Homo sapiens: one gene and its partner. The protein of the gene in region 2 purifies or fractionates together with the protein of the main gene of each other region. This does not show direct contact. Each region holds a gene or a part of one and is shown on either strand. Other genes may lie near its edges.

Region 1 (7,920 bases), on a different chromosome or scaffold from region 2:
TTAGGAGTGATAACTAGGGGCAAAAGAGAAGGTATCAAATTTCCAGTCTCCAATTTAAAAGTAACAAGTTACTTTTAAATGCACTATCTTTTTTTAATGTCTACTTTAAATTTAAAATATAGTTACTCTTATGATCTTTGTATGTTAAGTGCTATACCCATAGTTCAATAAAAATTAAGAAACAATTCTATTTATGGCACTTATTTTTTTTTTTGTACTATGCCTACTTCTGTCTACACTCTTTCATGCCTAGCTTCTAGAGTTATTTGTGGTGGCAATCCTGAGTCTACAAAGACCAAACCAAGGAAGACTTACAAGACCTTTCACCATCTAACCTCAACTTTTCCCAGTCTTATCTCCTGCCACTCTTTCCTTCCCTTGCCCCACTTCCTTCTCCCTTCTTCAAATTATGCTGCCATCATTCATGCCCTAGTAGCAAACTGAATTCGAAGTTCTCTGAGGCAGGGCATGGTGGCTCACACCTGTAATCCCAGCACTTTAGGAGGCTGAGCGTATCTTTGGGCAGATCACTTCAGGCCAAGAGTTTGAGACCAGCCTAGCCAACATGGCAAAACCCTGTATCTATTAAAAATACAAAAAATTAGCCGGGTGTGATGGTGCATGCCTGTAATCCCAGCTACTCGAGAGGCTGAGGCAACAAAACTGCTTGAACCTGGGAGGTGGAGGTTGCAGTGACCCGAGACTCTGTCTCAAAAAAAAAAAAAAAGTTATCTATGTGATGGCCTTTCACAATTTGATCTTTATATAACCTTTTTTCTCTACCTGAAAACGCTTCCTTTCTTTTCACTGTCTGACAAACTCCTACTCATCTTTCAAACTCATGTTTGCAACACTTGCCTTCCTCCATTCTCTTCCATTCTCCCACATTCTTTCTTCTAATACCTGCATCATAATTCTTTAACATTTGCTTACATATGTGTCTGTATCATCAAACTAATAGTTCAAGAACAGCAGACATCTATTATCTCTGAATACCTGACATCCAGTATCAGAGTCTTCTATTGAAGACTTTGCCACATTAAAGTTAAAATCCCAACTCCACAACTTCCTGGCTACATGAGCTTAGGCAAGCTAATTTCTCTAAACCTCAGTTTCACCACATTTAAAATGAGATATGAGTAATTAATTCATTAGTTGGGTTGTTTTCATGATTAAGCATAAGTTTTTAAATCACCATAGTAATAACTGATTCCAGCAAGAATCAAAGGGTGCTCAAACCATTAGGTGAAAGTTTGTGGAAGAGCAGGACATTCACAGTTTCAAACTAACATATTATTTGTTATTGGCCAATGGAAAAATATAACTTTATAATGAACAACACCTTAACCAAGTAATTAAACAAATACCACCAATAAGGGGACAAACAGGTGCGAAGTGCCCCTGGTGTGTGATGCACTGAGAAAGACTCATCATCTATGAAGAATTCCTTCTAAAAATTGTTTAGCCTGAATCTAATCATAAGGAAAAAACTAGATGAATCTGAATTAATCAAACAAATGGCCCAGGCTCTTCCAAATTTTGTTAAAAAAGACACTCCTCTCCCCGCTTAAACAGTACTGAGAAACTGTCTAGATCAAAGAAACCCAAATGGTAACTAAATGGAATGAGTGATCCTTGACTGAATCTCAGATGTTAAAACGGTTTATCTTTTTAAAAAAGTCCCAGCCTGGGCAACATGGCAAAACTCTGTCCCTACAAAAATAAGCTAGCCGTGATGGCCTGTACCTGTAGTCCTAGCTACTGGAAAGGCTAAGCTGGGAGGATCACTTGAACCCGAGAGGCGGAGATTGCAGTGAGCCAAGTTCACGCCTCTGCACTCCAGCCTGGGTAACAGAGCCAGACTCTGTCCCCGAAAAAAAAAAAAAAAAGATTAGCCAGGAGTCCTAGCTACTAAGGAGGCTGAGGTGGGAGGACTGACCGCTTGAGCCCAAGAGGTTGACACTGCAGTGGGCCATGATCATACCACCACACTCCAGGTTTGGAGACAGAGCGACCCTGTCTTACAAAAAAAAAAAAAAGAAAAAAGAGAACATTATTGGGATAACTACAGAAGTCTAAATACAAGGCTGTATCCTGGATTACAGTATTATACAAAAGTCAAAGTTTCTGCATACTATAACCATTATTATAATTGCTGCAGGCTAGAAAATGGCATTGTTTTTAGAAGATACATGCTGATGTATTTAGGAGTTAAGAGTCCCGACTTCTGCAACTAACTCTTATAAGTTCAGAAAAATACATAAATTAAGAGAGAGAAAGCAAATGCAACCAAGTATTAGCAATTGGTAAATGTAGGTAAAGAGTATATGGGATGTCGTTCTAATATTCTTGCAACTTTTCCTCATAAGAACTTTTCAAATATAAAACATTTGAGAAAATCTGTTAAATAAAAAACATTAAAAGATGCAAGTAAAGTGCTTAGCACAGTAACACAACAGGTTGCTATAATTGTTAATACTGTTATTATCTTCCAAAACAGATTAAGTGACAGATCTAAGAAAATGTGACATTGAAATCACTAGAATTAACTACATCAGAAACAGGAAAAAAAAGCATTCTCATAAAATTGGACTGTGCTATAATAAATCTAACACCATAAAAAAATACCATTACAAAACCCCTCATCGTGTAGTTTTACACGAATCCACTTTAAGGTCGTCCTTAAGCAAGTACTTAGTGAGCGTCTATTAGGTGCCAGTCTGTTCTAGGTTCCGAGGATAAAAACATTTGCTTTCAAAATACTTACGTCCTAGTGAACCAAGACAATAAATGTCATAAATACAATGGAGTAAAATAAAGTAGGAAGAACATGGGAGTGGGGAAGGGCTACCAAGAGGGTGATCATGGGAGACCTCACTGAGGTGTCGAGAGCAAAGTTTGGAGCCACCTAACTGAAGAGCGTTGGGAGCCGGCCAGGTAGTCAAGGCACAGTGAAGAGATCAGTGTGGCTGGATGAAGTAAGCCAAGAGGAGGGAGCTGAAGATGGGACTGCAGATGGAAAGGGGTAACAGGCAGTCCAGAAACCAAATATACCATCCTAAGAGCTTTAGCTTAGGAGAAGCCACTGTAGGTAGCAAAGGAGAGGCACAATCTGCGGTAACCTCCACAGTGGATTCACTTTAACATTCTCCCAACTCTCCTTCTTCCCAGCGCCGCCCTCCCCCAACCAACCCGCTACCTCGGCCAGATCACCTTCCAGTGAACCTGACACATTATCATTTCTTCATGAATATTATGGGTGTGTGCTCGGATGAGGACAGCTCTGGCATGGTACATCTTTTCTCTCACGATTCCCCAATCTGCTCAGAGATAACACAAACCGCTCTCAGGGACGCACACACAACAGAGAGGTCACACTCGACAGGGAAACACACGCCTCCCTACAGCCGCGCTCCACACACCCTCCAGCAACGCGCTGGGCGGAGCCAGCCGCCTCGAAGCGAGGCTCCCGGGTCGGCCGAGCCAGCCCCCGCTCACCCTCAGGTTCCCTTTAGTTCGCTGCTTGTTCTTCCCGCCCATGGTCGCGGTTGCAGCTGTACTCTGAGCACTCAGACCCCGGTTGACACGTCCGGGACACAACTTCCGGCTTCTGGCGGCGGAAGAGGACACCCTGTAATAACTTCCCCCGGGCCCTTTTCCGCCACCCACCCTGTCCATTTGCTGCCCCACTTCCGCTCCCGCCTCCCGCTGTGTCCCTGACCATCCGCCACCGGAGACGTCACAGCTAAAGCCACGCCTGTCTGAGTGATGTCATTCCTGGCCAATAGGAAGCCAAGCATTGGACCCGTGGCGCCAAATCCTGTCCTCCCCGCTTTCAGAAGCTAGGTTTGTTCCTTGCTTAGAGGGTAGGAAACTGGCGTGAATCATCAGAGGGGCAGTTTCACATAAGGGTAGCATTAGAATGTTATGGTAGAGGCTGTGGGAAGATGGGAGTGTTTTAGACTTCCAACATGATGCAATCATCAGTATCACCTGGGCGTTTTTTAGAAAAGGCCAACTCGGGCCCCTCAGAACTCCTGAATCAGATCCTGCATTTTGACAGTATTCCCAAGTCTTGTTAAAATTTGATTACTGCTGTAGGCACTATTCTCTCTAAATCTCCCCTCCCCGTCCCCTTTTATTCATATTGAAACTGTTAACGTGCAGTTTAGGAAAGAGGATAATGTGGGAGTCCCTATTAAAATTTGAAATGTACAAATCCTGTAACCCATTGATTGTGCGACTCAGAATCACACCAGAGAAACAAGTAAATGTGTGCTGGTTATTGTTTCTTGTCCACGCAGTCACCCTTTTATACTCAACTCCATGTTACTGGGGGGGCTTCTGCTAGATTCCACCAACAGGACGAACAAGAGGGAAACAAAGGCAAGAGGAAGAAGGGACTTGCTCCATTCTGTAAGCATCATGCCAGCAGCAGCTGCATTTTACCGTGGCAGGAGCAATTGCTTTAGCCAAAAGGTGGTTTTAATCTCTATCCTTTTTCCAACAATCACAGAATCAGCCTTATTGCACCCCTCAGAGATCACAGCAGCAGTCAGTGCTCTCCTCAGAGATCTGAATTCTACTTTCATGCGGCCCCTCCCCTGAGCTCCTGAGATAGCCAATGTTTGAGCCACCTCCTCAGAAGTTTGAGCCTCAACACCGTGGGATCCCTTCTTTGTGCTCCAGAGATCCAGTAACAGCCAGCCATCACCCTCTCTTCATTCTTCATAGGCCTGAACTAAGGTGTTCAGGGCCCTCCTTCAAGCTTTTAGGTTCTGATGACTCCAACCACTTCTTTTGTTCCATCCTTTCCTAGCTCTAGGAATGGTAGCTGCTACCTGCAGTGATTACCTGTTACCTTTTATAATTCCTTTTGACCAATTTCCCATATTAAAATATTTCTCAATAACTAATGTGATTTCTGTTTTCCTGACTGGACCCTGATTTTAAAATGCACACAAAAGCCAGGTGCAGTGGCTTATGCCTGTAATCCCACCACTGTGGGAGGCCGAGGCAGGTGGATCACCTGAAGTCAGGAGTTCGAGACCAGCCTGGCCAACATGGCAAAAACCCATCGCTACTAAAAATACGAAAATTAGCTGGGCAGTGGTGGCAGGTGCCTGCAATCCCAGCTACTTGGAAGGCTGAGGCACGAGAATCTCTTGAACCCGGGAGGCGAAGGTTGCAGTAAGCCAAGATCATGCCACTGCACTCCAGCCTGGGTGACAGAGCAGACTGTCTCAGAAAAAAGTCACACAAAGAGACATATTACAGGAGGTTCACAAAAACTTTATAATAGAAAGATAATTGTAAGCAACCTATGTCTATATATTGGAGAACTGCTAAATAAATTATATGTATTCAATAAGCTATTAGGCAACATTTAAGAAGAATAAGGTTTATCTGAACACACATAGGAAGAATTCTAAGACACATTCTTAAATAAAAAGCAAATACCAATATATACAGTATGATACCATTTGTGTTTTTAAAACCCACAACACAATAATATATATATATATATATTTATGCATATATATATAATATAAATACAGAGAATAGGCCGGGTGCGGTGGCTCACGCCTGTAATCCCAACACTTGGGGAGGCCGAGGTGGGTGGATTGCTTGAGGTCAGGAGTTTGAGACAAGCCTGACCAACATGGTGAAACGCCGTTGCTACTAAAATACAAAAATTAGCTGGGCATGGTGGCAGGCAGCCGTAATCCCAGCTACTAGGGAGGCTGAGGCAGGAGAATTGCTTGAACCCAGGAGGTGGAGGTTGCAGTGAGCCAAGATCGCGCCTCTGCACTTCAGCCTGGGTGACAAAGTGAGACTCCGTCTCAAAAAAAAATAATAATAAAATAAAGATCTGCAAGAATACATACCAGTCTGATCATTGTAGTGACTTTTTGTGGGAAAAAGTGGCAAGAAAAGACATTAGGGTTAAGAGTTATAGTCAAAGGAAATTAAGCCTTATCTGTAAGATTTTATTTTATACAAGGACAACATCTTCATGTATTAATTATGTAATTAAAAATCAACTCAGGCTGGGTGCAGTGACCGATGCCTATAATCCCAGCACTTTGGGAAGCCAAGGTGGGTGGATCACCTGAGATCAGGAATTCAAGACCAGCCTGGCCACGATGGTGAAACCTCGTCTCTACCAAAAATACAAAAACTAGCTAGGCACGGTGGCACGCACCTGTAACCCCAGCTATGTGGGAGGCTGAGGCAGGAGAATTGCTTGAACCCAGGAGGCAGAGGTTGCAGTGAGCCAAGATCGCGCCACTGCACCCCAGCCTGGGCAACAGAACAAGACTCCGTCTCAAAAAAAAAAAAAAAAAATCAACTCAACAAATATTGTTTGTTTAAAATAAATCATTGGTTACATATATCATGGTACATTGGTTATACAAATTGTAGTGTCCTCATTCTTGAGAGTTATACAATATAGCTGCAAACAGTTTAACACATTGGAAACACTACTAGATATCATGCCATTCACTGAAAATGTGGGTGTCACATATCAAAAATGCTACAGAAGGGGAAGATTAACATGTGCTTGAGTAGTCAGATAGGCTTTCCAAGCCAAAGCCCAAAGCTTGGAAAACATTAGGAAAAGTAAAATAAAAGGGAGAACATTCAAAATGGGGACGAGAGAGGGACAGAGACAGTGAGTTGGATTAGCATGGATTTCGGAAAGGACAGTCAAGAATCTAGCCTAACTTCAGTGCAGACTTACCCAGGGGGAAAAAAAAAAAAAAAACTTGAAGGACAAGACTGGAATGATTTTCTGTGCTCCTATTTACTAATTGTTTCCTAAATTTTGTCTGTTCTTGCTGGAAATATCTCTTCATTTCATTTCCTTGTATTCTGACGAGACTTTCCACCTTTTGCAACAGGGATCCATGCCTCTTGCCATGTTCCTCAACTACTCCAGGCCACACAGATCTCTCTTCGATTTTCCTAGGACATCAACTTATAACTGGTTTATTTTTTTACCCAGAAGTCAGTAGGATATTACTGCTTTGGGAACTTGAAAATAGTCTCATTGATTTAACAGTTTCTCATGTTTAGATTTTCCAGCAAGTCTGTAAATCCTTTGAAGGTGAGGCTATCTCCATGGTACTCTTAAACAGTGCCTGCCAAAGTAGATACCCGCAAATTTGTTTTAATTGATTCATACAAGGTTTTAGAAATCAGAAAATAATTGTTTCTATCAATACAGTAGGTGATAGGCAGAAAAGGTTTGGACAGAAGAACATTAAAAATAATGTTTAATTTTTGTCAAAATGTTAATGTTTATGTCAAGAAATGTCGGCTGGGTGCAGTGGCTCACGCCTGTAATCCCAATGCTTTGGGAGGCCAAGCCAGGAGGATTACCTCAAGTCAGGAGCTCGAGACCAGCCTGGCCAACATGGTGAAAACTTGTCTCTACCAAAAATACAAAAATTAGCCAGGCGTGGTGGTGCGTGCCTGTAATCCTACATACTCAGGAGTCTGAGACAGGAGAATCACTTGAACCCACGATGCAGAGGTTGCACTGAGCTGAGGTCACACCACTGCACTCCAGCCTGGGCAACAGAGCAAGACTCTGTCTCAAAAGAAAAAAAGAAAAAAGAAATGTCAATACTTTTAAGGCCAAGATTAGAAACTCTTCAGAAACCAGGTTGGGAGTTAAAAAAAAAAAAAAAAAGAGACTTGAAACCCTCCCTTCTTCATTCATAATTATTAATATTATAAATTCTTGTTTTCACAGATTAAGAGTTACACATCAGAATTATAGCCTTTTTTCCCTAAGTAAATATTGGGCATGCCTTACAGAAGTCTGATGTTAAAATAATCTTACCCATCCAGACAAGTTTCTGAGGAGGAAAATCAGACATCAAGCACTTAAAAATATATTTCGGCTGGGCC
Region 2 (8,674 bases):
AATGAATGAAAGTGCTATTATAGTAGCAGCCACTAGGAGGAGCAAGTAGGTGGGAATTTGAACAAATATCTAAGGTCCAACCATATAGGCACCAGCGTTTGAAATTTCTAGTTTCTGAGATTACAGAGTACTTTTAGAAGTTATAATATTTCTAAAATGTAAAAAAATTAAGCATTTTGAAAGATGTGAACAATTTTTTTAAGTTTGGAATTTTAAAAGCAAATCATCTAGTATGCTATTTGTTAGAATTTGTTTATATGAATTTAAACTCAGCATTAGTGTAATGAAAACCAAGGCTATTCACTGTACCAACAAAACATAGTTCTGCTGTAAGCTAAGCTGAAAATAATAGAGCTGAGCATTCTGATTTAGAAACTCAGTGTTTTCCTTCTTGTACTTTTAAATAGCTGGCCATTCTTTTTAGACCAGGGAACTATTTTTAAGCTTTTATTTCCAAATGACATATTTGGTAAATAATAATGACTCTCCGCTCCACTTCATAAGGATATCAGTAGATATAAGGGTTATGTATGTAAATTCAAAAGAAACAAAAGTTGCTTTTAAAATTTATTTGATAATCTGTTCTAAGTGTTACAAAGATAAGTTATCTGTTTTCTGCTGATATGATAATACTTGGAATCTGGTTGAAGTCCAATTATACAGATTTTTTTTAAAGTGTAAATTTGATGGTGTAAGAAGGAGTAAACAATAAGGTCAGATGTTTGAATGGATGTTTGAGTTAAAGGACTGAGTAAATAAATGATGGAAAATAATCATAATTTATGTTGCTTTTATAAGAACAATATACCTGAAGATGTCTCTAAAGTATTTTAGTATTACAGAAAACAGCAAATTATTGCATATTGTAATGTAGCATAAATACATAGTTTTGGTCCTAATATGATTTTGTAACAGTATGTGATAGAGATGCATCTTAATTTAGACTTCATGGTATTTGTATGTTTTAGATGTTAAGCTGTTGAGATATTAAATCCATATATAACTATAAATCTCCCATTGATAAATGAAGTGCATGTGTCTAGCCTTTAAAAAATTCCTTATTAAAAGATTCTCAGGTCTTATAAATTTTTTTGTTAAAAAGAATATAAAATTAAAATAACCATGCCTGCTTTTTATTAAATGATAAAATTATTCTCCAGTTATTGCCTGTTGTATTTTAATTCTTAAAAAGAGAGAGCAAAACAAGAAAGTTCAGTAGTATGCAAAATAGTTCTGCACTTTTACATTTTTAGAAGAGAAATAGCTTTGGTTTATCTCTTCTTTTTTGATATCTTCACATTATTAATGTGTATTTATAGCTTGTGGATGAAGTTCATGGGGAGAATGTTACTGTAAAATGCTGTTCAGTACACACTCAGTTTTTATCATTTGGCTTTTAAAAGTGTTGATCTCTTTAGTCTGTTGGTGATGGTTTAATAGAAAAACTTACACTTTTGTTTTGAGATGTATAGCTTATAAAACTGCTTAATTGGTGACTTCAATATTGAGAGATTAAGGTACCAAGAGGGACTTGAAATTTTTACAACCATATTTTTTAGTACTATTTATTATTAGTCTTTATTAGAATAAAAATTCATGGGTGAGAGTGATGTTGAGGTGTAATAGAGTCTGGTAAACTTGTTTAATCTTCATTTTGGAATGCAGTACTTACATATTTTTAAAAAATGTTTGCCTTTTGTGATTATTAGATAATTACTGAGTTGTGTTGTGAAATTGAGGAAAAATCAGGATCTTTGATAGATTTGTAGAATTTTAGAAATATCTTTAAGTTCTTGAGCCCTGAGTTGCTGTTCTATGATTGTTGCTAAAATAGTTTATTTGGTTTATCTGTGCCCTGCACACACATATAGTGGCGGTAGTTCATTACTGCATATTAATATAGCCTGGAAGCATAGTAGCTACATTTATATTTAATTTTTTGACCTTGTATTGCCATTTGTGGATATTTTTGTATCAAAGTATTTCCATATTATGTTTTTGAATTTCACTTCTGAAATGATAATCAGAGACAACGTTAAATTTGATCATTTGGAATCAGTCTTTTACATAAAATGTAAGCTATTTAAAATAGTTAATTTTTAAAGCCACTATTGATGTCCCTTTGTTTAAAGTTCTATTCATGGTCACTATAATAACACGAGGCTCTATTGTGGGGTTATGCATAAACTCACACTACCTTATGTGATCTTATGTTAATGCTTTCCTTTTAGTATCTTCTTGTAGCTTGGTAATATTTAAAATTTGTTGATACTCTCTTTGGTTGTGTTCATTATCTTCATTTAGGGAGATGTTGGGGAAGATTTTGTTACTAAAAGCTGTTACATATTAAGGTTTTGTTTTAAAAGGACTTTGAAAAAAAAACTCTTAAGGTTTTCCTTGCTACTATTTAATGAAATTTCACTGCATTGTGTCTTTTGATAGCCATTTTTAAGAGAGCATTTAATTTACTAGATAAGGATTCAGTTTGACCTAATTTGATAGAATATTGCTGTGTTTTTTGTAAAGGGCTACAGATTTTTTTTTAAGTTTAATTTCTTAAGGAATCCTTTAAACACATCTTCTTCTTATTTGCCTTTTCCCTCTGATGTCTATTACCCAGAATTACTCCAAGCTACATATTTAGCTGCATAAAGCAGTGACAGCTTGTCTTCTAAACAATGACAAATTTTAAAATCAGATATTAAGAAACCTTTTCATAGTTTCAAGGGCAGTGAGCTGTATGAACTTGCTTATCAGGTATTAGTGCCTCCAGGGCTATAAAAAGGTAACACATTTAAATGACTATCATACACAAGATATTGACATACCTTCCTTGGTCAGGCCATTTATGTGAAGAGGATTATGCCCACTGAAAATACTTTTGGCACGCCATCACTTCAGCAAAAAAGATGCTATCGAACATGCGCACATCCCCCAACAGTCTGCCTCCTGCGATTGCTTTTCACAGTATCCAAAGTGTCCATCTGTCTGCTTGTCTTCGAGTTACCCTCCTTGTTCATATGGGTCCTAGTCTTCTGAAATTTTCCCTTTCTTTCATTTTCTCTCTTTCGTTAAACAAAAGAGCTGTAGTTGCCCGTTCTGCTTGTAGCACTGTTGACTCTTCCCGACAGTTGATGCATTGAAGCTTTTTACATCTGCTATTTTCCTGGCTGGACAATGCAGTGCTGTGTTCTCGTCTCAGTATCCATATTTCTACTAATAACACTGAGCTGCAATGTAAAGCAGCCAGAGCTAAAATGTAGTGCTTCAGTTGTATTGGAAAAGAATAGGATTTACCTCTCTTCTTTCGTTGTTGCCTGGCAGCTGCAGGAAGGATTTTGAGCAGTTTTAATGGGGTTTTAGTCTATAATATGAAATCCACGGTTCCTCAGCTGCTGCACAGGCAGGCAGCAGTTTAAATGTGGGCTTGACAGATGCTCTCTCTGACAGAGCAGAATTTAACGTCACTGCTTGGCTGAATCCCACGTGATTGTTTGCATTCATTTTGACTAAAAACCTAAGGTAGGGAGAAGCTTAGAGATTTTGCTTTTATGTGATAAATTATATATGTTGAATGCAAGTGTAGTGATGAGTGAATAATTTGAAAATGTGATGATTATGAAATGGTTATGATTTTATTTTTTCCAGCTTACTTCCTTTTTTAACTTTATTCTTAAGTACAGGCTTTCTAAGTGTTTTCTGTGTTAGATGTTGGTTTTCATGTTTCTTACATGCTTTTGTAGGGTGTAAGCAGTATAAGCTTTTGTGTGTAAGTTGGTGTAATTTAACCCCTTCAGTGCATTCTCTTCTTGAAGTTTTTTTTCTCTGCTTTCAAATTGCTCTTGATTTTTTACTAATATGTAGTTAAGACCTATGGTTTCTATTGAAACCATGTATCTTTGTAATTTAGATCCCCCCCCCCGTTTTCTGGGGTTTGTATAAATAAGCTGTCTTGGATTACTTTACTAATGCATGATGTGATACAGCCCACTTCTTTTTTGCTCTTATGTGGTTTTTGGTGTTCTTGATGGCAGAAAACTTTATTTTAAATCACTTTTTAATGTTGTCATTTATTTTTTATTTATTTTTCCTTCCCTTTAAAATTACATGTATCGTAGAATTCAGTAAAATGATGTAATAGATATAGCACACTTGTACAGGATCTGGGGGTAATGAGATTTTACTAATTATGTTTACTTATTCTAATGTTTCAGAAAGATTTAATAACTTGCCATGAGGCAGATTTTATTAACACTACACACTCACTGAGATTTTTCTAATATGGTTAGTTTCTGGGGCTGGCACCTTCTTTTCTTACTGCAGAGCAGTAGGGAAGGTTTTTTTAAATTTTTTGTTGTAGTAAAAAGCCTTTATTATCAGTTTTTCCTCTGTGACTCTAGGGACAGTAATTCAGTCCTAGAAAGTTATAGTTTTGGAGCTTAAGCTAAAGGTTAACAGTTATATACATATTCTTCATCTCACTGCCTCCACCATTAATATATGCTATTTCAAATGAATATGAATTTGTTTTCTCTGATATTAAAAAAAATTTTGTCCACATATTTTTGAGCTTTGCTGATGAAATGTGCTTTGTAGTTTTAAGAACCCCACTGTATTAGAAATGTTAGAAGGATCGTTAAAGAAAAAAAAGAATTTTATAAATAGGAAACCTAAAGCCTAGACTGAGCTTTGACTTTTCCTAGTTAAGTTTGAAGGAGAGGACTAAAACCCAACTTCCTTGTAGTCTATATCCACCCATACTGCAATTCTCACTCACTACCGTTTTGTTTTTAAAATTAGTTTACTAGTTAACAGAGTAATGCTTAAGAACTTACTTAAAATAACTTATTTTCCAGAAGTACAGATGTGTTTTTGTAGATCAGTATTTATTTATCAGTGATTCTTTACATAGGATTTGACTATGAAGCTAGCCACAATGACCATTTATGGAGTATTTACTGAAAATCAGATTGCGTGCTAAGCTTACTTGAGCTGTTATGCAAATGGCTCTTTTCTAATAATTTTATTATTGTAATACCCACTTAAAAGATGCAGAACCAGTGCCTGGAGTTGTAAAATAGTCCAAATGTCAGATAAATACTGATAAGAATAGAGGCCAAGCTGGGAATTGAAGCAAGATTATCTAAATTCTTATCCTCTGTGTTTTTGTTTTCTTTTTAAATCTATCTAGTACTATCATTATTCTCTGTTCTTAAACTTTTTATTACATGGCACTGCTAGAGAAATTGTGGGATTTTTTTTTTTTCTGAACACTGGCGCAGCATACCCAGGAATCATTAATAGAATAATAAATGAATGTTTATATTTTCACTTTTTCAACAGGTACATATTGATTAACTACTGTGTACCAACATGTGCATTTAGGCATAGCTTATTAAGTATAGGGGATACAAAGTTGATTTAGAGACATTCCCTACCCCTTTCTCCAGGAAAGGACTAAATAATTATTATTCTTTTGCCAGTTCTTTTGATTGGATTTTTTTAATGTCTCCCTGGATTATTATAGATTTTGATTATTAAGAGAGTTATATGGGTAACGTATTCATTAGTGGGTCCCTCCAGTATCGGATTGAGTCCCTGAATTTCCAGTGGGACCCCCCCGCCCCGAACTGCTTGTTATGGGACAAGTATTTAAACAGCAAGAAACTTCCAAATATTACTAACAAAAGGTGCCTATGTACTTAACTGGAATTTACTTCATACTTTAAAAGTACAGCTGCAACCTCTTTCTTTCTGTCTGTCTGTTTTTTTTTTTTTTTGGAGACAGAGTTTTGCTCTATTGCCCAGGCTGGGGTACAGTGGCACGATCTTGTCTCACTGCAACCTCTGCTTCCCAGGTTCAAGAGATTCTCGTGCTTCAGCCTGCCGAGTACCTGGGATTACAGGCGTGTGCCACCACACCCGGCTAATTGTTGTATTTTTACTAGAAGTGAGGTTTTACTATGTTGCCCAGGCCAGTCTCAAACTCCTGACCTCAGGTGATCCACCTGCCTTGGCCTCCCAAAGTGCTAGGATTACAGACGTGAGCCACAGTGCCCAGCCAACCTGTTTGTTAAATTTAAGTTAAGCTAGTTAAGAACTTTACGTAAAGTTCAGGAAAACAGGGCAGATGTGAGATAAAAGTTCCTTTAGTAACTTTTTGTAGCAACCTACATGTTTCCAGTCAAGAGAAACTGTAAAAATCTTATGACAGGAGAGCTTGTAGAAGTTCTTCCTTTAGTCTAGTTTCTTTTAACATCTGAATTCTATGGTTAAACTAATTCAGTAAATGTGACAGGTTTCTTTTTCAGATTCAGCAAACTGGCAGCTATTTTGTTAAGTTTTATAGTTATAAATGGCTTGTAATTGTCACTTGCATAAGTCTATTTTTAATCCTACAACACATCCGTGATGGCAAAATAGGTGGCCGTTACTATGTGCATCATGGCCAGAGCTGTCCAGGCCGGTTTTAGCATTTTCCTGGGCATGTCTAGTATAGACTTCAAGGAGTCAGAATTTAAAGACAGGAATTGTAATGCCTCCTAATTGTCAGTTTTTACTGGGTATAGGAATAATTATTTTTGTATTCATGTAGTTAATGGTTTTGAATGATTATTACATGTTGAATCAGATGTAAATCTGCTGTTCAAGTGGCTACTAAATAGTAACTCATGGAGTTACATCATCTGTTTATCTATGTATGTACATTCAACAATATGTCCTTGGTAAAAAGATTAAAAGAGAAAGGTAGGGGGAGAGCACTTCAACCAGGGTGGATGATTTTCATCTAATGGGAATGAGCAAAATCCTTGAGTAACATTAGAAGGGAGACATGAATCTGGTCTTCTTATATTGGTCTCCTTTCCTGTTTGTGCTTTATTATGAGTGGTTGGTCCCTGAATTCAAGGAATTAATTTCAGCTAGGACTTACCAGAAATACCAGCTATTTTTTCCCATGTTGGACAAAAATCTTAATGTTTTAGATCAGGTATAATTTCCACCATACCACTCTGAAAACTGTCACTTGACACAATTATTTAGAGACCAATTTTAGTTTTATTGAGATGACTAGACAATTTTGCATGATGTTTGCTTGGAGTTTATTTCTCTTGACTGTTTTTATTTATAATCAGATGCAGTCTTTTTCATTACATAAGGGATTTGGACAAATGGCTTGTTTTTGGTTATTTAATATTAGTATAGGTAGTTTCCCCTTTTTGAAGAGAAGTCAAATGTTTATTAAAAGCTTGTAATTTTCCTCTAAAGTCAGTGGATGATTTATGAACCAGCTTTACTTTCCTTGAACTCACAAAGCAAGAATTAGCCTGATTGCAAATAAGCAATCTCAGAATGACCACAAGTGTCAGTGTTTGCCTGCCTTATTTTTCTCCTTCAGTTTTCTTGTGCAGCAGATAGGCATGTTGTTTAAGAATTTCTTTTGACTTGAAAACAAAGCTAAATTTAAGTGTCTCTTTCAGAACTAATTATAGACACCTTTATCTGTTTTAATTCATGCAAACTATTAACAATGAGCATTTACAATCAGCAGTGATTTGGCAAATACTTTATTATGCTTGTGTATTCCTTGGTTTTTCTGAGGCACAGCTGTTTCAGTCAGGAATAATACTCTTAGAGCTGTGGTTCTCAAGGGGGCAGTGGTAGGGGTAGTACTGATTTCTACGAGGTGTTCTAGAAGTTTGTGAGGATGTTTCTAGTTAACAGAATGATTTTTAAGGGCATTTTAGGGCCAGGGTAGGTAGTAGTCCAGTAGTGTGTGGGACAGTCTTTGTAAACAGCAAAGACTAGCTCTGTGTTCTGCAGGACTTCTGAGTGTTTCATTGGCTATCTGTGTAGGTGAAACACTTTTTTATAATTAAGTAAATTTAAAACATTGTTGGAACATAAAGTATATTTTGTTCAGTTTTAACGTGCACTGAATTATCTAGAAATGTAACTACAGTGTACAGTGAGGGAAGCTTGTACTTTGCTTTGTTCTAAACTTGGCCAATGGTTCACCATATCAAAAAATGAAATTGTGTTCATGGCATTTGAGTCACCAATATACCAGTCTATGGGCATTTGTAATTGTTACATTCACTATGACTTTATGTATAGGTATTAGCATCTGGTTAGTATATCTTCTGGTATAATCATGTCTGAGACTTACATACTGAAATGCATATTTTTATCATAAATCTCTCTTTTTGTTTGTTTTTTGAGACAGTCTCGCTCTGTTGCCCAGGCTGGAGTGCAGTGGCGTGATCTTGGCTCACTGCAACTTCCACCTCCCAGTTTCAAGTGATTCTCCTTCGTCAGCCACCCGAGTAGCTGGGATTACAGGCGTGTGCCACCACACTTGGCTAATTTTTGTATTTTTAGTAGAGTCGCGGTTTCGTCATGTTGCAGGCTGGTCTCAAACTCCTAACCTCAAGTGATCTGCCCACCTCGTCCTCCCAAAGTGCGGGGGATTATAGGCCTGAGCCACCACACCTGGCCTCTATCATTAATGTCTTTAAAAATTTTATTTGTATTAGTGTATTAATTTTTAAAATATATATGTAGATTGGTTGTATTACCTGTGCATTTCATTTCAGGTAGTTAAGAGGGGTCATTGTAAAGTATTTCTTATATAAATACTTGTTCCATGTAAAGTAAATATAAAGGGCATGTGTTG

Evidence for each region. Proteins that work in one complex are often made in the same cells at the same time.
Region 1: the proteins of B3GALT2 (region 2) and LTN1 purify together in Homo sapiens (affinity purification with mass spectrometry; 3 studies listed by BioGRID and IntAct, with this or other methods). This does not show direct contact.

Annotation. Positions count from the first base shown.
Region 1 is NC_000021.9:28,989,266-28,997,185, forward strand, and holds the start of LTN1 (E3 ubiquitin-protein ligase listerin), read right to left. Parts: upstream 3,613-7,920; 5' UTR 3,541-3,612; coding exon 3,499-3,540; intron 1-3,498.
Region 2 is NC_000001.11:193,183,191-193,191,864, forward strand, and holds the start of B3GALT2 (beta-1,3-galactosyltransferase 2), read right to left. Parts: upstream 3,424-8,674; 5' UTR 2,829-3,423; intron 1-2,828. UniProt on the Homo sapiens protein: Beta-1,3-galactosyltransferase that transfers galactose from UDP-galactose to substrates with a terminal beta-N-acetylglucosamine (beta-GlcNAc) residue. Can also utilize substrates with a terminal galactose residue, albeit with lower efficiency.